Linked DNA regions of Homo sapiens: regions 1, 2, 3, 4 and 5 are each reported to be linked to region 6. Evidence: microRNA targets listed by miRTarBase, many of them from high-throughput screens and not tested one by one. Region 6 holds a microRNA gene; each other region holds the end of a gene's coding sequence.
The links. The annotated mature microRNA hsa-miR-5088-3p reads UCCCUUCUUCCUGGGCCCUCA and lies in region 6 at 1,492-1,512, shown strand. An mRNA with a match to its seed (bases 2 to 7 or 8) in the 3' UTR can be bound and repressed. Matches are read on the target gene's strand: a 7mer-m8 pairs with bases 2 to 8, a 7mer-A1 pairs with bases 2 to 7 and ends in A, and an 8mer does both.

Region 1: miRTarBase lists MED8 as a target of hsa-miR-5088-3p. Seed matches in the 3' UTR shown: 8mer at 2,724-2,731.
Region 2: miRTarBase lists USP49 as a target of hsa-miR-5088-3p. Seed matches in the 3' UTR shown: 7mer-m8 at 2,628-2,634, 7mer-A1 at 1,874-1,880 and 7mer-m8 at 140-146.
Region 3: miRTarBase lists KNTC1 as a target of hsa-miR-5088-3p. The part of its 3' UTR that is shown has no 7-base or 8-base seed match.
Region 4: miRTarBase lists CD68 as a target of hsa-miR-5088-3p. Seed matches in the 3' UTR shown: 8mer at 874-881.
Region 5: the mRNA of GDF6 is a reported target of hsa-miR-5088-3p. Seed matches in the 3' UTR shown: 8mer at 3,278-3,285, 7mer-m8 at 3,066-3,072 and 7mer-A1 at 2,257-2,263.

What each region holds. Positions count from the first base shown.
Region 1 is chr1:43,381,507-43,385,636 of GRCh38, forward strand. MED8 (mediator complex subunit 8) reads right to left here. Exons shown (of 7, transcript NM_201542.5): 7 at 2,411-3,600. The coding sequence ends at 3,536. MED8-AS1 (MED8 antisense RNA 1) reads left to right here and starts at 3,543. Exons shown (of 2, transcript XR_001738027.1): 1 at 3,543-3,635; 2 at 3,778-4,130.
Region 2 is chr6:41,793,201-41,797,200 of GRCh38, forward strand. USP49 (ubiquitin specific peptidase 49) reads right to left here. Exons shown (of 8, transcript NM_001286554.2): 8 at 1-3,523. The coding sequence ends at 3,333. Among named protein-coding and RNA genes, the nearest start is that of TOMM6, 7.5 kb to the left of the region's middle.
Region 3 is chr12:122,625,974-122,630,089 of GRCh38, reverse strand. KNTC1 (kinetochore associated 1) reads right to left here. Exons shown (of 64, transcript NM_014708.6): 64 at 3,694-3,885. The coding sequence ends at 3,862. Among named protein-coding and RNA genes, the nearest start is that of MIR9902-1, 68 kb to the left of the region's middle.
Region 4 is chr17:7,581,100-7,585,229 of GRCh38, forward strand. CD68 (CD68 molecule) reads left to right here. Exons shown (of 6, transcript NM_001251.3): 6 at 279-1,012. The coding sequence ends at 412. It overlaps MPDU1 (mannose-P-dolichol utilization defect 1), which reads left to right and starts at 2,753. Exons shown (of 7, transcript NM_004870.4): 1 at 2,753-2,866. The coding sequence starts at 2,764. MPDU1-AS1 (MPDU1 antisense RNA 1) reads right to left here and starts at 2,993. Exons shown (of 2, transcript NR_136402.2): 1 at 2,819-2,993; 2 at 875-1,064. RefSeq lists enhancers at 1,577-2,450, 2,402-2,451, 2,451-3,325, 2,562-3,091, 3,326-4,130.
Region 5 is chr8:96,141,128-96,145,257 of GRCh38, forward strand. It overlaps GDF6 (growth differentiation factor 6), which reads right to left. Exons shown (of 2, transcript NM_001001557.4): 2 at 1,206-4,130. The coding sequence ends at 3,436. Among named protein-coding and RNA genes, the nearest start is that of GDF6, 18 kb to the right of the region's middle.
Region 6 is chr19:49,680,683-49,684,682 of GRCh38, forward strand. It overlaps MIR5088 (microRNA 5088), which reads left to right and starts at 1,435; the gene lies at 1,435-1,513. PRMT1 (protein arginine methyltransferase 1) reads left to right here. Exons shown (of 11, transcript NM_001536.6): 4 at 1,228-1,383; 5 at 1,514-1,577; 6 at 3,245-3,387. RefSeq lists silencers at 1-233, 80-244, 3,929-3,988.

The sequences.
Region 1 (4,130 bases), not on the chromosome of region 6:
GCACCAAGGAAAACAAAACAAAACAAAATGCCTGGGGATAAATGGGTTTGAAAATCATTGCCACAGACTTTAGACCTAAAAAGGATCACTGGGATCACCAAGTGAGAAAACTGAGGCTTAGGGAAGTGAGATGCCTTGTCCACGATGTACTTAGGGAAGCTGCCATGTCCAAATGGCATGTGACTCATTGAGAGACCACAACAGGAACCCAAGAGCTGCCTCAGTGACACATGGAGCTCAAAAAAAAAGAGAAGTTAAAGGGAAGAAGAAAGGAACTTTGTCTTGTGGGACAAAACACATGCTGAAGTGATGGGGCACCATGGTCCCATCAGATGCGTTGGAGTTTGCCTTCTGTTCCAATCATAAAGCCCCATCTGCACAGTGGCAAGCCCTTTCCAAGGGTTAGTCCCCATGTGTTTGAGGTTTCCAGGCAAGAGCCACATCGAGCCTCCATAAGCAGGCACTGTGAACCCTCAAGACTGAACAGAAAAGGACCACATCCCCTGTTCCTACTCCTGGCCCAATGCTAAACTTCAGTAGGCTATTCCCCTAATTCTGGAGCAGATAGGAAAGGCAGATGGAAGAGAATGTACACTCCTTCGTAGTTCATCTGGACAGTAATCAGGAGCTGACCCAGGGTGGGCGTTTGGAAGGACTCAGCCTCCGTCCTGCCTGGTGCTGGGATCAGCTTACACAGCTCCTGTGTCCACAGGGCACAGAGAATACATTGTCCATAAGGAGGATTATTCTGTACAAGAAGCTCAGACAAAGGGAGAGGTTGTTTCCAGCTGCCTGGGGGAGGTGAGAGGGGGGTGGGAAAAGGGACCAGCCTTGCACTGGGGCATTCCTGCAGAGTTCAGCTTCTTCTCTGTGGCAGCACAACAGGAGGTGGGCAATTACACCCCCTCCAGCTCAATCCTAATGCTGGGACCCATTATGGAGTTCTAAGGAGCACTTGGCTACAACCTATCTATCTTGGCTGTTTCCCAAAAAACGACAGGGTTGAATGAGGTACACCAGCTAAGTAGGGCAGCAATAAACACCAGAAGGGGAACAGAATGGGGTGACTGGCACAATGAGCAAAAGAGAGGTTCAGCAATGACTGAATCCCAGGCTCAGGGCAGAGCTGGAGAGGGAGAGATCCTAGGCAATGGGCCTTATGCTGACATTGATTGGATAAGCTTCCGCCTTCAGCAGGATGAACTCTGTCCTGTAGTAAGCTCTTGACGTTTCACAGCTGCTGCTTCTTTCTCCATCCTAGACACAAACCTAGGAGACAATGGCCTAATCTCTTTCTCCAGGGGACCCAAGAATAGGAGAAAGCACGATCTCCAAGCAAAACAGGACAGTCAAAAACAGAGGAATGTTACCAGAGTAGGCCAATAGTCACCTTTTGCAAATCCTAAATCTGAGCCAGTAAATAGGTCATGTCCCCTTCTTCAAAGGAAAACTGTATATGTATTCCCTCCTGAGGGAATGAGTATGTTAGGGGTGGGAGATACATACTCTCTATTGAGGCATTTAATAGGCTGTATGGACCCCAAAGTGGGAGACACTACTGAGATTTGTGTACTCCAGATGATTTGAGGATGGGGGATAAAAACGACAGCATGTGCTCCTACGGTGATGAATGTAGAGGAGTCCCTCTAGAGGAAGGAGTGTTTGCTTAGGGGAACAAGATGTAGGTGACATCCTGCATATGTTCCTGTTGGGGCAAGAGGATATTTCCATTCTTGGATGACAAGGAATCCATTTTAATAGTATGGTGGGGATGAAGTCAGTATTTGCCTGGGACACAAAAAAACTTGGGGTTGGTGCCATTCAATAGGAGGGAATCTTTTGGTGGAGTAAAGGACAATAGTCACCAAAAGATGCTCCAGGAATTTCAGAGAAGCACAGCTCAAACTCTACCCAATATGCCAGTTAATACTGACATTTCCAGTGGGAAGGGAAGAGGTGAGAAGATAACACCTGAGTGGGCTGATGAGCCGGAACAGTTTAAGTGGGGGAAAGGTCTGGCATTGCCTTAGAGCTGGTGACCAGACTCCCCTACTGCTATGTATTGTGGTCAGTGAGCTTTGTGGATACCATTCCTCACCTTGATGGAATGGTAACAGATGTGACATCTGGGACCACTTTTCCAGTCCTTTGCTGCCACAGCCTGGCAGAACTTTGTTTGGCACTGAACAAATGCCAAAGTACCAGTGTGTGACAGAACAGAAAAAAGGCAGCTGGAAGGTATGAGCAGGAGGGAAGTTTCAGGATTTTTAGATCAAAGCTAATTAAAGATACGGAAACTTTTTTATGGAGAACAAATTAGAACTGCCTTGCAGCACTCTTGAAACTGCCCCTCTGATCCCTATGTAGTGCTCTCATAAATTACTGTCAGACAACCCTGAGCCAGTGAACATCAATTTAAATAACTTTATTCAGAGGAATCCTTTGGTCCACTTCTGCTGACTCAACCCCTGCCCATGCCAACAAAGGAGTACTAAGAAAGGCAGGTTAGCCTGAATGTCTAAATTCAATTTGTTCAACTTTATAAAAGCAGGCAAAGCTACTGGGGGTTGCCCCCTCCCACCATCATTCTGGTCCACCATTTGGGCCACAGGCTTAGGGAAATGAAGGAAAGTCGTTTTCTTTGAAGGAAATCCTGGCCAAAGTCGAGAAAGTGGGCACCATTATGAGGTCAACTAAACCCTGATGGCAGTGTGAAGTGCAATTCCCTTCTCCCTCCAAAATAAGAAACATGAATCCAGGGGAAGGGGCTTTTTCGTGTGCTAAGGAAAAACCCTTTCCCACATAGTCCTGCCTGGCAGAGCCACTTCCTGAGAAAGCCTCGTGTGTATAAGGTGGGGTAAAGGATAGGGGACTTTATGACTATTTGACAGGTAAAAGCCAAGTTGGCTCCTTAGAGGATGGAAAGGAGAGCAGGCCCAAGCTTCACCAGAGCTGCAGGTGGGCATTTTTTTTTCCTTCCTGGCCCAGAAGCTTCTTCACCTTGCGCCTTAGAGGGATAGCCAGAATGAAACCCAGGCAGGAGGGCCTGCAAAAACAGTGTGCCTCTAAGAACACAGAGGTTGCTACAGTTTCTGGCAGCACAAAATAAGCATAGCCTTATTTGATCTTGTGTCCATCAGCTCACCATTGACGTGAGGCAGTATCAGATTAGGGTAAGTTCTGGATCAAGGACTGTGGAGGGTGGTGGGGAGAAGGATCTGTAGAAACTATCATTTATTGAATACCCATTATTTCATATACTGTACTAAGTGCTTTACATTCATTTCCTCATTTTAATCCTCACAACAACCCTATGAGGTAGGTATTATCACCATTTACAAATGAGAAACAGGCTCAGAAAAATTAGGTCACTTGTCCAAGGTCACACAGCTAGTCAGTGGTGGAAGTGGGATTTGTCTGCTGCTGAAAGCCCATGTTCTTTTTATTGTACCCATCTAGGTGAGCCTTGAGCAAAAGGTAATTTCACTGCCCAACTCTGCAAAGAGCACCAGGGAGTCGAGGTTGCCAGCCACACTCACCGCTGGTAGGGATGCATGGAAGCCGACTTGATGTTGGTTTTTATTCCACTTGGCATTTTCCCTGAAAGGAACATTAAAAAAGTCATCTTAAGCAAGGTAAGACTTTCATGACAAATCAGAAATGTGGTACCTCAGGTTCCCTCTGTCACTTCCTTTATCATCTCAGAACCTCTGCGGCATCTGACCCTGTTTGACAGAGGTCAGAAGTATGATTCTTCACCCAGCTGTCTCCCTGAAGGTGTCCAGGAGGAAAGAAGTGACATGGGAGAATAGTCTGTTCATCCACTCCTAGAACAGATAGCTAAACCTGTGTGACTCCCATTTAACGTCACAGGTAAAAGAGTACTATGTTCTCTCATTGTTTTTCTTTTTTTATATCATAATAAGTGCAGAATCTCTCTTTAATTGTCCCTTTTCCTAGACAGCTTGGAGGAAATAACTCTTCTAGCTGCCTGCATCTAGACTGTTCTAAAAATGAGTAGGAGAGAAGGCAGGAAGCCAAGAGCAAGAGAGGCAGGATACAGAGAAAAGAATACATGTAGGACTGGAAAACTGGCCTGCGTGTCAATTCCTGATGCACCTACCAAATGG
Region 2 (4,000 bases), not on the chromosome of region 6:
TTCCAATTTTATTCATGACATTTTAAGAGACATCTGGAAATTCTTTTTTTTTTTTTGTTTTTGTTTTTGTTTTTTTTTTAAGACAGAGTCTCGCTCTGTCGCCAGGCTGGAGTGCAGTGGCACGATCTCGGCTCACTGCCCCTTCTGCCTCCTGGGTTCCAGCGATTCTCCTGCCTCAGCCTCCCAAGTAGCTGGGACTACAGGCACGTGCCACCATGCCCAGCTAATTTTTGTATTTTTAGTAGAGACGGAGTTTCACCATGTTGGCCAGGATGATCTCAATCTCTTGACCTTGTGATCCGCCCTCCTCGGCCTCCCAAAGTGCTGGGATTACAGGCATGAGCCACCGCGCCCAGCCTGGAAATTCTTTACAGTGTAGCACTGCCCCCCAACCCTGCCCCATAACTCCGAGACTGAGGGGCTGGATCAAAGCTGGCAAGAGCTCTGTCCACCATTTAATAAGAGCTTCAGTTCTGCCAAGGGCATTCCTAACTATTTTTATACTAGCATGGATGTTCGTCTCAGAGGCAACCACAGATATGAGGGTCAGGCTAGATTGAGGTAAAAAAAAATCCTTTTTGAGGGCCTAGGTGCACTCATCTTGGCTGGCTACAGCAGCAAGTAAACATGCCAGCCAACTAACTACAAAGGGTTCCTGGAATGAGACTCTTAACTACTTGCCCTGGGAGAGAAGCAGGCCCATTAAGGTTCGGTTAGGAGACCTTGGGTTTGATTTGGCAGCATCTAGTCAGTTTTTACCTGGTTCTTATTTTCTTCTCTTTAGAATGATTCAATTTCAGATGCAACTGAGACATTCATCTATACCCAGTACGTAAATAAATTAAAGGCAAAGGGACATTTCCCTCACAATAGCCATTGGCTTATGCAGCAGGGAACTCTTCTTTAATAAAAATCTCCTTAAATACTAACGTCCTAAGTGTCCAGTGCTGCCGCCTCTGGGTACCTGAGGTGTCTGTAACTGCAGTGGGCACCTTTCACAAATGTGTAGCTCAGTGGAGACTCTGATGTTAGTTTCTTTTATTACTTTGATATATGCGTGCTCAGCTAAGTTAAGCACTTATTTCACAAAGTCCTTAATCTGCTTAATAAATCCTTATAATATTTGGTATAAAACTATTTTTAAAAATTAAATTGGAAGATCTTTGAATTTTCCATTAAATGTTTATTAATAATTATCCCCACTGGACAGCCTGAGGGGTAAAGTAGATGCTCTATTAGTTCTTCTCTATCTTGTAAGTTCTTTTTTTCTAGAATAATAAATATAGGATTCAATGAAAGATGAGGCACGATTCATAGTTTCCTTTCCTTTTTACTCTCCTTGGTTTTTTTGAGTTAATGGGCTTTTCTATTGCCACAAAAAGTCATTACTAATCATGCCGACTTAAAAACGTGGATCTTGAGAGTACAGCTTCACATCAGAGCCTCTGGCAGCATGGACAGCGGTGACACTTTAAAACAGTGTCCAGGAGAGGGTGAGCCCAGGCAAAGCTTATACAAAGAAGCCTGCAGTAGACAATATAAACCAAACAGCATAAAAAATGCCATACGCTATCGCTTCCAAATAAAAGCTAAATATTACAGAAACCTCACAGTGTTGGAAAAAGCAAGTTTAATTTAAAATATAGTCACTCCTTCCCTATCAGGGTGAGCCATTTTTTGTCTGAATTTCCTCCATGTCTCAGTGCTGCCTGGCAGGGCCTATGGGAGAGTTCATCTCAAAAGAGGTCAACAGCAAATGCTACAGATCTGTGTGGGAAATGTGGCTCATCAACATTGCTAAAGCTATAACCCTCATTCTTTAGCCTGGCTTTCCCCACTTCCCACTCCTCCCCGAACGCCCTTCCACATCTACTCCCTTCAAGTGACAACTGTACTTCTACCTGAATTCAAACATTAATATGATATACTCAGTCAAAAGATGAGCATTCATAGTGACAGGTTGAGTGAGGCTCACTGCAGTGACCACAGCAACAAAAGTTAGGGTTTGCATTCACTTTCACCAGCAAATCTAAGTGAAGAACTAAGAATGAAGTGGTGCCTGATGGGGACAAGGGTTTTTATCTGGGCAATTTCATTCTGTTTAGAAACTGACCCAATTTAAAAAGGAAGATGTATTTTACTAGCACTGGGGGAAAGGACGGGGCACTCTTGTTTTTTTCTCTGATGGACTGAGTATGGGGGGTAAAGCAACAGTAGGGATTATCAGATTTGGGAGGAAACAGGTCAAGGCCATTGGTAATCAACTCTTCAGATATGTACGAGGTGGACTCCTAAGCAGTTAACATACCCTAGAGAACCAAAAGCTCCCAAACCCTGTGAACATGAATGTTCTAGCTCTCCAGGAGCAAGAAAGAAGCTGCAGGCTAAGAAGCTGCATGCCGCACTGAAGTGAGAACGGGTGACAGGCCTTCAATAAGCCCTGGAGCATCAGCTATCTCTGCCCACCCTCAATTGAGTTCTGAGAAAACCTAAGAATCAATTTAAACCAAACCATGTGCTTGCCCTAGACCTGAACCAGGGATCTGCTACAGAACTGAGATAGCCAGGAGTGTCCTTTGGCTCAGCATGGAACATGTGCTAGTCTATTGCTTCTTTATATGACCTGCCCCTTCTTTAGAATGAAGGGGTATTCATGCCAGTCTCAGAAGTATGGAATGATTATATGACAGCAGCAAGTAGGGAGGGTATGACATATGAAAACCATCCCACTTTGCATGGGGAAATTTGTTCCATGCATCTCACTCCACTCTTCAGCTGCTATCCCCAAAAAAGGAAGTTTGTTTTAAACCCTTGAAGGTTACTTCCTTTGTGGGAATAAACCCTTTAGACTTCATCTCCCATCTTGGAGCCAATCCCATCCAGCAAACTGCTAGCCCAGGGCCCCTCCTCACGTGCTCTGTCCAGGACTGCTCACATCCGGAGGGTTCTTCTGGTGCTGCAAGGAGGTCCTGATTAGCAGGGGAATCACATCATGGAGAGAAAACATGGCTGCTCTCCTGTGTGGATATGATTGATTTACCCCCCCGCCCCGCTTTCCTCCACCCAGATCCCTCTATATTCAGAAGCAACTGATGAAAGGATCTTCATAGAAGTTACTTCTTTTGTTTTTAGGAAAGGAGGGAACTCCCAAACTCATTCAAAAGAAAGAGACTATAAAATTTACGACAGGACACGAATCACCTGGCACCTTCTACTCTAGACCCAGCAAGGCAAACCTAGTAATCTGTTCCTGCAGTAGCCTTATTTCCTATAAGAGGAAAGATGTATGGACACCAATACACAAAAGCCAGTCTTTGATACATGCCTCCCATTCAGGAAAATGTCTGTGGTCTGCCTTCATCATTGTTGCTGGACTGCACCTGAGCTTGGAGATGGGTTTCTGAGATTCTTGCATTGCCCTGCACTGTTCTTTGAGTGTAAAAAAGGATGTAGGCCTGGGTTTTGCACACTTCCTCGACACTGCATACATTCAGCTTTGAGTCATTGCAGTGGACCCAAAAACCTAGGAAACCAAAGGAGAAAAAGAGAGAAAATGACTACCCAATTCATATTTTAGTCAGCAGGCAAAATCAGGAGATGAAGAAAGGGACAGAGAAGTTCTGAATAGAGCCAACCCTCGATTATTGGTGGGGAAGGGACAGGTAAATGAAACTGACAGACTTTTGTGTATCCACTGGCTTTAACCCCACCAAGCCCCACGGTACTGCTTATCGACTGACTGCAATTTTTTTTTTTTTTTTTTTTTTGAGACAGAGTCTCGCTCTGTCACCCAGGCTGGAGTGCAGTGGTGGGTTCTCGGCTCACTGCAAGCTCCACCTCCCAGGTTCACGCCATTCTCCTGCCATTCTCCTGCCTCAGCCTCTCGAGTAGCTGGGACTACAGGTGCCCACCACCACGCCCGGCTAATTCTTTGTATTTTTAGTAGAGACGGGGCTTCACCATGTTAGCCAGGATGGTCTCGACCTCCTGACCTCGTGAT
Region 3 (4,116 bases), not on the chromosome of region 6:
TCAAAAATAAATAAATAAATGATATGTAAATAAATAAATAAAAATAAAATCATAGACAGCTACTCAGGAGGCTGAGGTGGGAGGACTGCTTGAGCTCAGGAGTTCAAGGCCAGCTTGGGCAACATAGTGAGACTCCGTCTACATTAAGTCAATCAATCAAGGCAGGTACTTCCATTATCTAAATTTTGTCTTCCAACACATTTTAGGGGGGCTAATAAAGGATGCCAGTCTGTCCAGAAACTTGTATAGAAGGACTGAGTACTTCCTCATTCTGTATATGGCCACATGCAGTTAGCCCATTCCCTTCTTTAAAAAAATTTTTTTCTTTGTAGAGATGAGGTCTTACTATGTTGTCCAGACTGGTTTCAAACTCCTGGCCTCAAGTGATCCTTCCACCTTGGCCTCCCAAAGTCCTATGGTAACAGGTGTGAGCCATCATGCCAGGCCTACATTCCCCTCCTGATGAGTACTTTGGTTGTTTCCAAACGTTTCCTCCGAGAATAATGGCATAGTGAGTAACTTACAAGTGTGTGTTCCTAGAAGTGGAATAGTTGGGTCAAAAGGTATGCATATTTGTAATTTTGAAGAGATTGTCAAATTGTCCTCCAAAGAACTTATACAAATTTAAATTTCCACCAAGATATGAGAATAAATTTTCTGATAATTTTGTCCAGTTATCAAACTTTAATTTTTGCCATTCTGGCAAGTAAAAAATGGAATCTAAGGTAGTTTTAATTTGCATTTTTATTAGCATTAGGGAGGTTTTCTTTTCACATGTTCCAAAGCCCTTTGGGCCATGCACAGTGGTTCACATCTCTAATCCCAGCAACTCAGGAAGATTGCCTGAGGCCAGGAGTTTGAGACCAGCCTGGGCAGCATACCAAGGTCCTAGCTCTACAAAAAAAAAAAAAAAAATTGGCTGAGTGTGGTGACATGCACCTGTATGGTCCCAGCTACTCAAGAGGCTGAGGCAACAGGATTGCTTGAGCTCAGGAGTTTGAGGCTGCAGTGAGCTATGATTGCTTCACTGCACTCCAGCCTGGGTGATAGAGCAAGACTCCATCTCTAGTGGGGAGGAAAAAAGCCCTTTGTATTTTTTTCTATGGTGTATTTATTTGTATTATTATTTTTATTTTGAGACAGGGGTTCACTGTCACCCAGGCTGGAGTGCAGTGGCACAATCTTGGCTCACTGCAATCTCTGCCTCCTGGCCTCAAGCCATCCTCCCACTTCAGCCTCCCAAGTAGCTGTGACTTCAGGCGCACACCACCATGCCAGGTCAATTTTTTTGTTGTTGTTTTTTAGTTTTTAGTAGAGACAAGGTTTCACTATGTTGCCCAGTCTGGTCTCGAACTCCTGGGCTTAAGCAATCCGCTAACTTAGTCCTCCCTAAGTGCTGGGATTACAGGTATGAGCCACCATGCCCAGCCCAGCTATTTTTTTTTTTTTTTTGAGATGGAGTCTCACTCTGTTGCCCAGGCTGGAGTATAGTGGCTTGATCTTGGCTCACTGAAGCATCCACCTCCTGGGTTCAAGCAATTCTCCTGCCTCAGCCTCCCAAGTAGCTGGGATTACAGGTGCCTGCCACCACACCTGGCTATTTTTTGTACTTTTAGTAGAGACGGGGTTTCACCATGTTGGCCAGGCTGGTCTCGAACTCCTGACCTCAGGTGATCCACCTGCCTCAGCCTCCCAAAGTGCTGGGATTACAGGAGTGAGCCACCATGCCCGGCCAGCCCAACTATTCTTATTTGTTATGATATGATCTTTAGAAGTCTGTCTAAGACCTATGTAAATAGTTATTGGACAATGTTTTAAATATAGGTCAAACGTCATTAAAATATCATTGCAAATTAAGTAACTTGCATTTTTAAACTAATTATTGTGGAGAAACAGTATAACACCTTCAAAGTGTAAAATAATTTTATTATTGAAACTGCAATTTAAAAACTTGCAATTAGCTAAATAGAAGCCTATATACTCGTAATAACTAGCATTTTTGGCACTCGGGTACTGTGCTAGACGCATTTTTTTTTTTTTTTTCTTTTTAGACAGAGTCTTGCCCTTGCCCTATCATCCAGGCTGGAGTGCAGTGGCATGATCTCTGCTCACTGCAACCTCTGCCTGCTGGGTTCAAGTGATTCTCCCACCTCAGCCCCCTGAGAAGCTGGGATTACAGGCATGCATCACCACGCCTGGCTAATTTTTTGTATTTTTAGGAGAGATGGGGTTTCACCATGTTAGCCAGGATGGTCTCGATCTCCAGACCTCATGATCTGCCCACCATGGTCTCCCAAAGTGCTGGGATTATAGGCGTGAGCCACCGTGCCTGGCCTAGATGCTTTATACGAACTGATTCAAACCTCCTGCCACTAGAAGGTAGATACTTTTACTGTCCTCAGTTTGAGGGAATTAAGATGGTGAGAAATTGGGCCAAGCAAGGTGGCTCATGCCTGTCATACCAGTACTTAGGGAGGCCAAGGTGGGAGGATTACTTGAGGCCTAGAGTTCAAGACCAGCCTGGGCAAGAAAGCAAGACCTTATCTCTACAAAAAAATTTAAAAATCAGGAAAGCATGGTGGTGTGTGCCTGTAGTCCCAGATACTCGGGAGGCTGAAGCAGGAGGATCCCTTAAGCACAGGGGTTCAGGGTTGCAGTGAGCTATGGTCATAACACTACACTCCAGCCTGGGTGACAGCAACACCACCCTGTTTCTCTCTGTGGGAAATTAAATAACTTGTTCAGGCCCACACAGCTAGTAAGTGATAGAACTAGAACTCAAATCCAGACTTATTTTACTTCGAAACCTGTGTTGAATCATGTTTCATTGAGTTTTTTAGAAATCTTTTTTTTCAACTGGCAAAATAAAGGCAAACTAATTCCAGTAACATCAAATTCACTTAAGTTATTCGCAAGTATGGCAAAGGACTACAAAGTCAGAATAACAGGTGTAATTAACACTTCTGTGTGCTGGCTTTTTGCTCCACACGCCTTTCTAGGCCACCGGCTGCAGTGCTGGGGGTTTACAGTTGCGGACCACTCCTCCCAGACTTCTAGCCAGGTGGCTTCCAGTTTGGTTCTGCTATTTCTTGGCACTGGGGTAAAAATTAGAAGCTTGGAGAAAGTGCAGAGATGTTTCTTCTTTTGGTGGTGGGCTTGGCAGCCTGGACAGCAGCAGTGTTAAGTTGTCAGCAGCACTGGCAAAGAGACTCCTGGGCTTCTGAGCACTGCAGTGGCCACAGCAGCTCCGACAGCTCAGTGGCAAATGTGGGCTCGGGGCTCCAAGCCAAGGGCCGGAGCAGCTCCTGATCTGTGGCTGCAAAGCCCTTCTTCCCTTTTGTCTGGCTCCCGCTTCTACCTCCCTTCTGTTCTTTCAGTCTTTTGAAGAACTTTATAGCCAATCCCTGGCATGAAATTCTTCTCTGCTTGGCATATCTAGAGTGGCTTTTATTTTTCTGACTGATAAACTCTGCCACTAAAATTATACCAATATTTTCTTAGAATAACATTAAAAAGACTGATATTCTTACTTTTTTATATGGAAGACATAGGCTATAAGCACTCAATTTTCTTAAGGGAGAGAGCAAACTTTTTGCACTTTGTTTCCTTCATATATGGTGCAAAAAAGTTGATAGTCTCTATAAATTGCACAAGTGACTGGCAATGAAAAGACTTATTAATTCAGGACATGAGTTCTTTATGGGGCAATTATGCTCATATTGTTTTATTTATTACATGTGGGGTAATGTTAGACAAATAGCTATAATACAGAGATTGTACAATTTAAAAACTGTAATAAATATGGTCCATTAATAGCAGACTCCAAAATTCTTGTCCTTCTTGAAAAAAAGGTTCAGTGATTTACGATAATCCACTAAGAAACATCTAAATGGGAAGAAACACAGAAGTGATTTTTATAAGTCACTTAGTTTTTCAAATTGAAAATGGTCAGATAAACTACAGAACTTAAGTGAAGTGATACAAATCTACATATCAAACTATTTGGCATTTTAGATTAGAGAGAAACAGATTTTAAACGCCACAAATTTATCTCCCGAATCAATACTCTCCCCTTCTGAAAAAAAAAGTAATCTTATGGCATTGAGCACAACCACC
Region 4 (4,130 bases), not on the chromosome of region 6:
CTCCCACTGCACTGAAAACCCCTTCCCCAGGCCCATAAGCCACTCATCTCTCTTCTTAACCCCCCAAATCTCGCTCTCCCAGCTTGTCATGGCTACAGGGCAGCTTTCTTTCCATCCTCTACAAGACTCTGCCAGTTTCCCCCTTTTATCACTGCTGAGTCACTGCGGTGAGCTCCTCACCAATCTCCTACTCCCCAGCATCCCCCCATTCCCTCCTCCCACCTTTATCCCAACCAGCACGTCACTGCAAATACCTACCTGCCCTATCCTTCCGCCAGGTTTCTCCTGCCCCAGTGACCGGTCCATCTTGCTGCCTCTCATCATCGGCCTGATCCTTCTTGGCCTCCTCGCCCTGGTGCTTATTGCTTTCTGCATCATCCGGAGACGCCCATCCGCCTACCAGGCCCTCTGAGCATTTGCTTCAAACCCCAGGGCACTGAGGGGGTTGGGGTGTGGTGGGGGGGTACCCTTATTTCCTCGACACGCAACTGGCTCAAAGACAATGTTATTTTCCTTCCCTTTCTTGAAGAACAAAAAGAAAGCCGGGCATGACGGCTCATGCCTGTAATCCCAGCACTTTGGGAGGCTGAGGCAGGTGGATCACTGGAGGTCAGGAGTTTGAGACCAGCCTGGCCAACATGGTGAAACCCTGTCTCTACTAAAAATACAATTAGCCAGGTGTGGCGGCGTAATCCCAGCTGGCCTGTAATCCCAGCTACTTGGGAGGCTGAGGCAGAACTGCTTGAACCCAGGAGGTGGAGGTTGCAGTGAGCCGTCATCGCGCCACTAAGCCAAGATCGCGCCACTGCACTCCAGCCTGGGCGACAGAGCCAGACTGTCTCAAATAAATAAATATGAGATAATGCAGTCGGGAGAAGGGAGGGAGAGAATTTTATTAAATGTGACGAACTGCCCCCCCCCCCCCCCCAGCAGGAGAGCAGCAAAATTTATGCAAATCTTTGACGGGGTTTTCCTTGTCCTGCCAGGATTAAAAGCCATGAGTTTCTTGTCACATGCCTTTCTATGCCTTCCATGGCTGGGTCTCAGGGAGCCGGAAGCAGCTGCTGAGGAGGGATGAAAATGTCAGTGTGTGACGATGCCTCATGGGTTCACCCCCCAAAGCCTGGCACAGCTGGTGTTGGGTCTGCCGTGCCTCCCTTCCTTCCTCCTCTTGGGGCCACTGGCTGCTCCAGTTCCCCATCCGTGGCAAGCCGGTAGAGCCATTCATCCCCGCAGCCTTCTTCCTGACCCTCGTACAGTTTCAAATGCAGCAGACAGCCAAAGCAATGAGTGGGGGGCTGTGGAACTTCATTCCCAAAGGCAGCGCCAGTGGCTCCTGAGCAATGAGAATGTCCTGTCCTGTCCACCATATTCAAGGCCAGCAGAAGAGCCCGATTAAACCCTCGCAGCACCTGGCATGCTCCTATCCCACCTACAAGGGGTTGAATCAAGAAGGAGCAGTGGGTACTCTGACCTCCACTGGGGGCTCCTGGGAACAGCATGCCCCCCACACGGGGCCACCTGCCAAGCCTAACTTCATGCCCCCAGTACTTGAGATGAGGAGTGTCACTCTCAGGACAGCCAAGGTCCAGATTCCAGAAAGGACCTCCCAGATGGCCACAGCCTGCACCAGCAGTGAGCGCCAGTCCCACCCATTACAGCTGGCTACGGCGCAATCCCTGGGAGCCAGGATGAGCAGCACCCCCCAGCCGTAGGAGCCCCAGGAGGCTTCCGGCCTCCAAGGCCCAGAGACTGCCCCACAAGGGCAGCCCTCACCTGGCAGGGCCCCAGCAGCCCCACCTCTGCCTGCAGACATCCGTGTGACCTTGTAGACTTTGGAGGGGGGCCGCCAAAGGGCTGATCCACAGCGGAATGACGCACGGGTGGGCACCGTGGGTTGGCGTCCCGGCGGTCGGTAACGAAGCACAACGCCCCCACCAGGTAGTCCAAGGTGCCCTTTCCCAAGCAGCGCTGCAGGGTCCACTCGGCCTCGCCGAAGTCTCTGCCCAGCACGTGGTGCGCCCTCGGGCCAGCGGGGAGGGGGCGAATCCCGGGACTGCCTCGCCAGGCCTCGGCTCCCCGGAGACTCTTGGGGGTCTGGGCCCCAAGGGTGATTCAGGTGCTGCCCTTCCCCGACCTGGGCTCGCCTCCCCCACCTCCTCCTCTGCTTCACTGTCCCGGGCCCAGCAGTTGCCGGCGCACTCATGCTCCGAGGCCTGAGCCAACCGGAGGCGAGACAAGCACAGGGCCCTGCGCGCAACCCGGCACCTAAGGAGGCCTGCCCGGTGCAGACTCTCCTGCTCCCACCGGCGCCCTTCCCTCTAGAGACGCTGAGAGAACGGGAGCTAGTAGCGCCCCCACCCAACGCCACCTCGGAGACTCCGGCTCCTTCTCTCTCAACTTCGAACAATACAAAGTGTGCTAGGAGAAGACAAGATGGCGCCCAGCAGGAGGAGCGGAGAAAGGCAGGGGTGTAAATCTGGCTTCCAAACTGGAAGCGTCAACAAAGGCGTGGGAGGTCTAACCGCGCAGGCGTGCAGCTTCGGCAAGCTTTACAATTCCAACAGCGCGTCCAAAACGTGGTCCCTGACTGAGACTTATTTTACGCCACTAGAGTGAGGGTGGGTAGCGTCAGAAAGAGCGGGGCACGGGGCGGGCCAGCTTCGCCGCGGGAAAAGAACGGGAGGCGGAGTGTCCGCAGCGCGCACGCGCAACGAAAGTCAATGGCGGTCTGGAGAGACTGGCGGAAGCTAGCTTTGCAATATGGCGGCCGAGGCGGACGGACCGCTTAAACGGCTGCTCGTGCCGATTCTTTTACCTGAGAAATGCTACGACCAACTTTTCGTTCAGTGGGACTTGCTTCACGGTGAGTTTTATTCAGCATCCGATCCAAGTCCTACTCGAGTGACCGTGGGCCCTTAGTCCAAGCCTTGATCGGCGACTAAGTGACGGCAGTGACTGCCGCCATGCCGAGCTGGACGGAAGTCACTTCTGAGAAGGGCGGAAGTGTCTCGGGCTCCTTAGAGGGAGGACACCATATTAGTGCCAGTGGGGAAGTCACCGGGTGGAATTACTTCTTTGTGGAGTTTGTGCTGTAGCGACAATGAAAAACGAAGAGTCAACTTTTATAAAACAAAATAAAAATTAAGTCAAATCATGCCAACCTTTATTAGATCGCTAGCAGGGTTAAACTTAATTCAAAGCCCCTGATGAATCGGGCCTTCATTGCACCCCCAAAGGCTCCGCCACCCTGATTGCTTTCTTTCCAGCCTCCAGGTTTGCTCATAGTCTGATTTCGGAATAATTTGCCTCCCTTCCTTTTTCTGATTGCGAGACAGCTCCACAAGGGTCACCGTCAGACCGTTTGGGGAGCGTCAGTCTGCCCCTGTCAGTTCATGGTACCTCTCTTGAGCTCGTGGGGCACTTTGTTTTAGCCGCATTCATGACCCGTGAGAGTCAGACTCCCACTAGACCAAGTTCCTTGAGGGGAAGGCTTCAAGGCTAGAGAAGTTGTGGATGGCCAGGGCATAAAAGCAAGCCTTGAAAGGGTAAGGTTTAGTCCCTGAGTAGGGGCCAGGGACAGTCAGAGTGTTCAAGAAAGAGTGGTATGGGGCGGGCACGGTGGCTCACGCCTGTAATCCCAGCACTTTGGGAGGCCGAAGCGGGTGGATCACCTGAGGTCAGGCGTTCGAGACCAGCCTGGCCAATAGGGCGAAACCCCGCCTCTACTAAAAATACAAAAAATTAGCCGGGCGTTGTGGCAGGCGCCTGTAATCCCAGCTACTCGGGAGGCTGAGGCAGGAGAATCGCTTAAACCCGGGAGACAGAGGTTACAGTGAGCCAAGATCGTGCCATTGCACTCCAGCCTGGGCAACAAGAGTGAAACTCCGTCTCAAAATTAAAATAAGAAAAAAAAAATGGTATGAAGACTTGTCTTTGGAGAGAGAAGACATGTGAAATGGGGCACCCATTGGCCCAGAGAAGGGAAATAAAGGATCAGAGAGCTCTTGGGCATTTCTCAGCTTTATATGGGGAAGCAATGGAGAGCCGTGGAGGTCAAGCCAAGTTTGGGTGTTAATTTATAGGGAATGGAAGATTGGATGTGGGGGGTGGTAGGCATCGGAGAAAAG
Region 5 (4,130 bases), not on the chromosome of region 6:
ACATCCTCTCAAAACTCAGAAGTCAAAATTGCTTTGTTAAAAAGCTCCATTTGGGTAAATAAAGTTTCTGCAAAATGACCTGGAAACTCAAACAATCACCGTGTCCACGGGAAAGTGTTTCTTAGTTCTAAGGGTCCACTTGCAACCAGTTTTTTGAAACATGACCTATTTGTAAATTGACTATTGTGTTGATAACCAAAACTCATAAAAATCACACCCAGGGCAGTCCCAGCAAAGAGTAGAGAGCCAAAGCCCAGTAATGGCTTAAACTGTAAGTTTACTGGGCCAAGCCCAAAGCTAAGAATTCAAGGAGTTTTGCAACCCATACCCATTTTTCAGCTGCCCTTATGCCAGCAGTTACAATTCACACACTCCAAAACTTCAGGCAATGCTGCTGGCCTCTGTACCATTTCCTCCTCCGCCAGCTGACCAACCCTAAGGATTGTAGCTAACTGCACATTCCCCACGTCAATATTTAGGGACCAATCAGAGAGCAGGTAGATGATCTGGGGACAGAATTGTACAGTGGTTAACTCCTCAGGCTCTAGAGTCTGAATGAACTAATTTTAAATCCTAACTACAATTCCCTGGCTGGATGCCCACAGGCAGGTTACTTAAATTCTCTGCACCTTGGTTTCCTCATTTGTAAAATGGGGATTATAATAATATCTACCTCTGAGGGTTTTAAATGAGATTCTACATGTGTAGAATAACATCATGCCTGATAGAGTGAGTGCTCACATTCACACATGAGTTCCCCAATTCACAGCAAGCACAGAAAAACATTTGTATCTTCTGCTTCCAGTATGCCACAAAGGTAATGAGTAATTACACTGACATCTTGGTTGACTTAGGTAACCACTTTCTTACCTCAACATTACTGCTTTGTTTTTTTCAACATTAAAGCAACTAAGAAATAATCCAATTTCTATTTGGATTCCTGAAGTGCTGGGATGAGGGACAGGCTTATAAACACTGGTCTAATAGGTGACAAGGATTTGGCTTTATTCTAGTAATAAAAATGTCATGAAAAAGGAGTTATTGAAGAGTTATGAAGAAAAAGTGTAATGCTCTAAATGATAGATTTTTAAAATCATCAGTTTGTTTTCAGGCATTGAGTCCCAAACTGGAACAAACTACCTCTGACAATAATTCTGTGAGAAAAGGATTTTTCTAAATCGATCCATATAAACCAGGCTGAGTTATTAAGGAGAAAAATGCGTTTAATAATATAGCATTCGATTGCATATCATCCAGGAAAGGTGTACTGTAAAAAATGTTTTGATTATTCATTGACCTCTGGTAACTTTAGCGTTGTAAATACTTGTATTATATGAGGTAGACAGTTTAAAAAAAACTCTCCATTAGACAGACTTAAAATTTTGTAATAATATTTAAGAAAATGGTAACATTATGAAAAAATGAAATATCTGATTAATGCTTAACTTTGTACAACTCGAATATAAACTTTAAAAATATTAGAAATTATAACATTTGAGTGCATATAACGTTTTGTACATTAGGATGAATTGCATGCTGTCCATTTCCTCTTTGCACTTTCAGTCACCTTAAATAAACAAATATATACAGCCTTAACAGAACAACAGTGCATCCAAAGCAAATGTGCATTTTAAATTATTTCTCCTGGCCAAGTCTTTTTTTCACTTAGCATTTTTATATTAGCATTTCTTATCATCCCCACCCTTTCTTTGACAGTTTGTAGTTCTCTGAACCAAACAAGCAACAGGTTTAGATTGGAAGAGAGCAAAATCACTTAGGAAAAACTAAAACTTTTTAAAAGGCTGGTACAAATTCCATTGATTAAACAATTTTATAGTCAAAGATGAGGAGGAAGCTAACTCTTCAAAGGGCCTACTCATGGGCAATGTTTGAAAACAATACTGGTGCAGGCTGGGGGAAAGTTCATGTTTTTGACTATCTGGGAATGGGTATTTCAATTTCACTGTGCTCTCTCCAGCTTCCTCCCAGAAGACGAATTCCACCCCTGTCTCCTTCCTCACTGCCTGTTCCCCATCTCCCACCCCAAGCTCAATGTAACACTTGGCTCTTTTCACAGTTTCTCATTACTAAGTTTTAAAAACATTGCCTAACTGATAATTACAATCTGAACCAATTCTTTTGGGGGAGCCCTGGGCTATTGCTGGCTGGTAATCTTTCAGGAATGTCAAAGAGAGGGGAGGGAACTCAGATTTTAAAGAAACTTCAGAGACAGGGACTTGTGTCCCCTTTCATCCCTCCCTTCCCCACTCCTGGCTCCTGGCCTGTCCCTTGATCCCCATCCTCCCTGAGGCCCACCATCTTCCCTCCTGATGGGACTCCTTCTACTTCTTGGTTCCTTTTCCCTCCTTTGTAGCTCTTACGTTAATTGTTTTGTTCCCCACTCCTGCCCATTTTTTTGAACTGGAAAATCACCTTCCCCTTAGAAGTGCATGTCTGAATTTTGGCAAATTCTGTTGAAAGAAATCAATTAGAATCAGAAAGGGCATTTGGGTGGGCTACCTCCAGCCTGGGCTAATGCACCTCCGTGTCAGCCCCAGTCAGAGGCAGGCCTTGTGGTTTCTCATTATCCTTCAAGGGGTTCCATTTGGACTAATTCTTGTCATTCCATCCATACCAGCTCCCCTTGCCCCCACCAGAAAAAGCAACAATGAAGGCAGAGACCTGGGCCCTCAGGAGTGAGATGAAGGTTGCCAGTTCCTGGTACCGAAAGAGGCCAGGGCAGAGCTGGTAAACTCACAGAGTACACAAATGGGTGAGAGGGGCACCCGTGGGCCCACCTCTCTCAAAGCTCTTCTATAGGCAGGACCATTCCTGACTTAACTATTCTTTTTGCCAATTTCCCTATCTAACACTTTCTGTGTGGGAGGGCACAAGACATGGGCTATGACATGGCCAGAGACCCCACCTTCTTTACACATGTAAAAACCAACCAAATCAAGATGCGTCAACGGTGATTCTTCCTCCCACATTGTTTCCCTTTTTAAACTGTTATTTTTTCAATCCATGGAGCAGTTGAGAAACGGGTATGCATCTCTCCTCCCCTCCCCTTCTATCAAAGCCTGTAAGACACATAAGGAAATCCAAAGCCACAGTAATAGAGAGAGAGAGAGAGAGAGAGAGAGAGAGAGAGAGAGAGAGAGAGAAAACAGAACAAAAGAAATCCTCCTTGGCTTGTTTTTCCAGGGTGGCCAGGCAAGGTGTGAAAATCCATATTTCCCTCTGGGCTGGCAGGTAGAAGTTACTGGGAAGGCTGCGCTCCCTTCTCTCCCACCGGCTCTCACATCCAGGCTGTTCCCTCACCCTCAGCCTCCCCCAGCGCCAGCTTCCTCCTCCGCCTCTCTGCAGCCAGGCCTCCCCTGCAAGGCGGACCTTGGCCCACCTTGGTTCCGGGCCAAGGCGGCGGGAAAGGCACCGCTACCTGCAGCCGCACGACTCCACCACCATGTCCTCGTACTGCTTGTAGACCACATTATTGCCCGCGTCGATGTATAGAATGCTGATGGGAGTCAATTTGGTGGGCACGCAGCAGCTGGGCGGGGTGGAGCCGGGGTCCATGGAGTTCATCAGCGTCTGGATGATGGCGTGGTTGGTGGGCTCCAGGTGCGAGCGCAGCGGGAAGTCGCATACACCCTCGCAGTGATAGGCCTCGTACTCCAGGGGCGCGATAATCCAGTCGTCCCAGCCCAGCTCCTTGAAGTTCACGTGCAGGGGCTTCTTGCTGCAGCGTAGCCTGGACTTCTTGCCGTGCCGCTTGCCATGGCGACTGGCGAAGGCCGTGCGCCGCCGCCGGCGGCCGGGCGAGGGCAGCCAAGGCCTGGCATCCGGGGCGCCCGACGGCGGCGGCCACGACCCCTCGGCGCCCGCGCCCGGGCCCGCAGCCTCGGCCGAGCCCAGCTGCTCGCGCATCTCTGCGAACAGGTTCTTGCGCTGGGATCTGGTGAATACCACCAGCAGGGCCCGCTCCTGGGGAGGCCGCACCCTCCGGCCGAAGCCCAGACTCCGCAGGTCCGGGGGCGGCGGTTGCTGGGGTCCCCGCGCGCGCGCCTCGGCCTCCCCGGCGTCCAGCTCGCCCCATGCGGCCCGCAGCTCCAAGCACAGCTGCTTCCAGG
Region 6 (4,000 bases):
CCCTGGCCGCAGGCCGCCCCCCTGCCCCTCTGCTGCGCACTTCCTAGGGTCGCCTCGCCAAGCCGTTGCCTTGGAGACCGAGGTTAGCCTGAATCTCTGCAGGGGCCTCGCGCCGAAGGCTGGGGTGGGAGAGCGCATGCGTGCCTGGGGCCTTAGCCAGAGGTCGGGCAGGGCCCACTGGTCTCTGCCGCCCTCTAGTGACCGGCGGTGGGACTGCGCCCCGGCTGCTCCCGCCCTAACAGCTTCTGCACACTTCAGATCTGACTGAAGACACTGAAATCCCAGAACGAAGCTGGGGTGGCATTCTAAGGAATTTTCTTTTCCCCCTGAGGCCTTTTTCATAAAATTGTGGCAAAATATGCATAAAATTGCCATTTTTTATTTTTAGAGACGGTCTCGCTCTGTCGCCCAGGCTAGAGTGCATTGGTGCAATCATGGCTCACTGCAGCCTCGACCTCCCCGGCTCAGGTGATCCCCCCACTTCCACTTTCGGAGTAGCTGGGACCACAGGCGCGCGCCACCACGCCCAGCTGATGTTCTTATTTTTCTGTAGAGATAATCTTGCCTTGTTGCCCAGGCTGGTCTCAAACTCTTGGGATCAAGTGATCCTCCGGCTTTGGCCTCCTGAGGTGCTGGGATTACAGGCGTGAGCCACCGCTCCCAGCCTGAGGACTTTTAAAAGCCAGGGTTCACTGGTTCTTAGGTAGCAGTGGTGAAGTCCGGCCAAGATTGGAGTTTAGACCATCTAATCTGATTTTTTAAAAAGGGAAACTGGCTGGGCGCAGTGGTTCACGCCTGTAATCCCAGCACTTTAGGGGGCTGAGGTGGGTGGATCACCTGAGGTCAGGAGTTGAAGACCAACCTGGGCAATATGGTGAAACCCCATCTGTATGAAAAATACAAAAATTAGCCGGGCATGGTGGTGTGCACCTATAATCTCAGCTACTTGGGAGGCTGAGGCAGGAGAATCACTTGAACCCAGGAGGCGGAGGTTGCAGTGAGCTGAGATTGCACCATTGCACTCCAGCCTGGGCAACAGAGTGAGATTCCATCTCAAAAAATAAAATAAAATAAAAATAAATAAATGAATAAATATAAAAGGGAAACTGAGGTGCATGGAAGAAAGCGAGAGGGCCGAGCTCTGGCCCTCCGAGCTCTCAGGACACGCTGTTCTCCAGCTGGGGATATGGGGCCCCTCACGGCGTCTCTGTGCCATTCTTGCCCTAGGAGATGCTGAAGGACGAGGTGCGCACCCTCACTTACCGCAACTCCATGTTTCATAACCGGCACCTCTTCAAGGACAAGGTGGTGCTGGACGTCGGCTCGGGCACCGGCATCCTCTGCATGTTTGCTGCCAAGGCCGGGGCCCGCAAGGTCATCGGGGTGAGTCTCCAGGGTGGCCAGGCGGGGCCGGGCCTGAGGGATGGAGGGGAGCCCATCAGGGCTCAGGGATTGGATGGAGGTGATGGGGGCAGGGGATGGGTCTCACCCTCCCTTCTTCCTGGGCCCTCAGATCGAGTGTTCCAGTATCTCTGATTATGCGGTGAAGATCGTCAAAGCCAACAAGTTAGACCACGGTGAGCCCAGAAAGAGGATGGGTTTGTGGGAGTGGAGGGGGTGATGCCCTGCTTCCCCAGGGCCCTCTGAAGAGCAGTGGGGTCTACAGATGACCACAGATTCAGCAGCTCCCAACCCATGGTCTTTTGGGCTGCCGGCCGCCTGAGAATCTGAGTGTCAAAATCACAGGCTTAGCACCGCAGTCTTAAAATTAGGGCAAGAAGCACTCTCTAGTTTCTTGAATGAGTAATAGAGTCACGTGGTTGGCCACGGAAGGCCCACAGTGAGAAGCCTTCCCTGTTTCCCAGCTGCCCTCCTCTGAGTTTAACCAACACTAACTTCCAGAGAAGTCTGGACCTACAAACACATACATACGTAAATGCATTTACATTCTCGTGCATAATTTTCACGCCAGTAGCATTTCATACCAGCCTCTTGCCCTTGGCTTCTTACACCTGCTTGTCATGTCGTTTAACACTTTCCAGGATGTTGCGGCATCCGCTCTTTTGCATGACCACCATCATAGGTACATCCCCAGCATTTTTTTTTTTTTTTTTTTTTTTTTGAGATGGAGTCTCACTCTTTTGCCAGGCTGGAGGGCAGTGGCACGATCTCAGCTCACTGCAAGCTCCGCCTCCTGGGTTCAAGTGATTCTCCTGCCTCAGCCTCCCAATTAGCTGGGATTACAGGCGCCAGCCACCACGCCCGGCTAATTTTTTTGTTTTTTTAGTAGAGACGGGGTTTCACCGTGTTAGCCAGGATGGTCTCGATCTCCTGACCTCGTGATCTGCCTGCTTGCCTTGGCCTCCCAAAGTGCTGGGATTACAGGTGTGAACTTTTTTTTTTTTTGTATTTTTTTAGTTGAGACATGGTTTCACCATGTTGGCCAGGCTGGTCTTGAACTCCTGACCTCAGGTGATCCATCCACTTTGGCCTCCCAAAGTGCTGAGATTACAGGCGTGAGCCACCGTGCCATCCTGAAGTGATTTTTAAAAAGAGATTATTATAATGAACGCACGAGTCCATTTGAAGCAAATTCCCACTGTGATGTAATTTTCCCGGTAAATGCGTCTGCTTGTGTCTTATCTAATAGATAAAGGCTGTTTTGAGAATGTGATCATGCTGTTACTTATTATATCAAAACCACCCAGTTAAAAACAAAATCGCGGCCGGGCACAGTGGCTCACGCCTGTAATCCCAACATTTTGGGAGGCCGAGGCGGGCGGATCGTGAGGTCAGGAGATCAAGACCATCCTGGCCAACACGGTGACACCCTGTCTCTACTAAAAATACAAAAAATTAGCCGGACTTGGTGGCTGGCACCTGTAGTCCCAGCTACTCGGGAGGCTGAAGCAGGAGAATGGCGTGAACCCGGGAGGCGGAGGTTGCAGTGAGCTGAGATCACGCCACTGCACTCCAGCCTGGGTGACAGAGCAAGACTCCGTCTCAAAAAAAAAAAAAAAAAAAAAGTAACATCACCTGATACCCAGTCCACATAAAATTTCTGCTCCTGCCTCAAAAATGTCCAGAACGATGTATGAATTTTAAAACTGTTAGAAGGGTTCATGGCTTCTGCTCACGCAGTTCTCTGAACTGAAGTGGGGTCCCCAGGCTCTAGCCCCCGGGGGAGGTGAGGTGAGGGGCAGGCCTCCCGGGGGCTGACGTGGCCACCCTTGTCCGCCCGCAGTGGTGACCATCATCAAGGGGAAGGTGGAGGAGGTGGAGCTCCCAGTGGAGAAGGTGGACATCATCATCAGCGAGTGGATGGGCTACTGCCTCTTCTACGAGTCCATGCTCAACACCGTGCTCTATGCCCGGGACAAGTGGCTGGTGAGGCCCCAGCGGGACGGGTGCAGCTCGCGTGGGCTGGGGTCCAGGTAGAAGACGAAAACCACGCTCAATTTTTCCCACAGACGGGACTTACTGTGGGGGCTTAGCTGCAAGGTGTTAGAAAGCCACAGCCCAAGCCAGGTGTGACAGACCCTGGAGGGAGATGGTGCGATGTGGGGGAGGTCGTAGGAACAGGAAATCCGTAGCGGCGCAATAGCCCAGGTCCTTAGGCCCCAGCAGGCCTCCCCGGGAGAGGTGAGGTGACGGAGAGGTGGATGAAGCATACGGAGGGGCAGCCAGGGCAGGTGTGCCCTTGCTGCGTGTGGAACAGCAGGGAGGCCCGTGTGGAAGGAGGGTCTAGAACGGCAGCAGGAGGAGGAGTGGAGGTGAGGGGTGACAGGGCGTGTGCAGATTTTGTGGAGGCTTATGGGACCCCGTGCTTTTCCTCTCAGAGCAGCTAGGGAGGGTCTGAGGATCCCCAGAACCTCCAAGGGCCGGGAGCTGACTGGGGTGCCCCTGGGTGCCCTCTGGCGGCCGTGTGGGAAATAGACCAGGGGGCGAGGGGTGAGTGCCGCTGCGACATGAGGGTGGCCCAGACCAGGGCAGGAGGCCA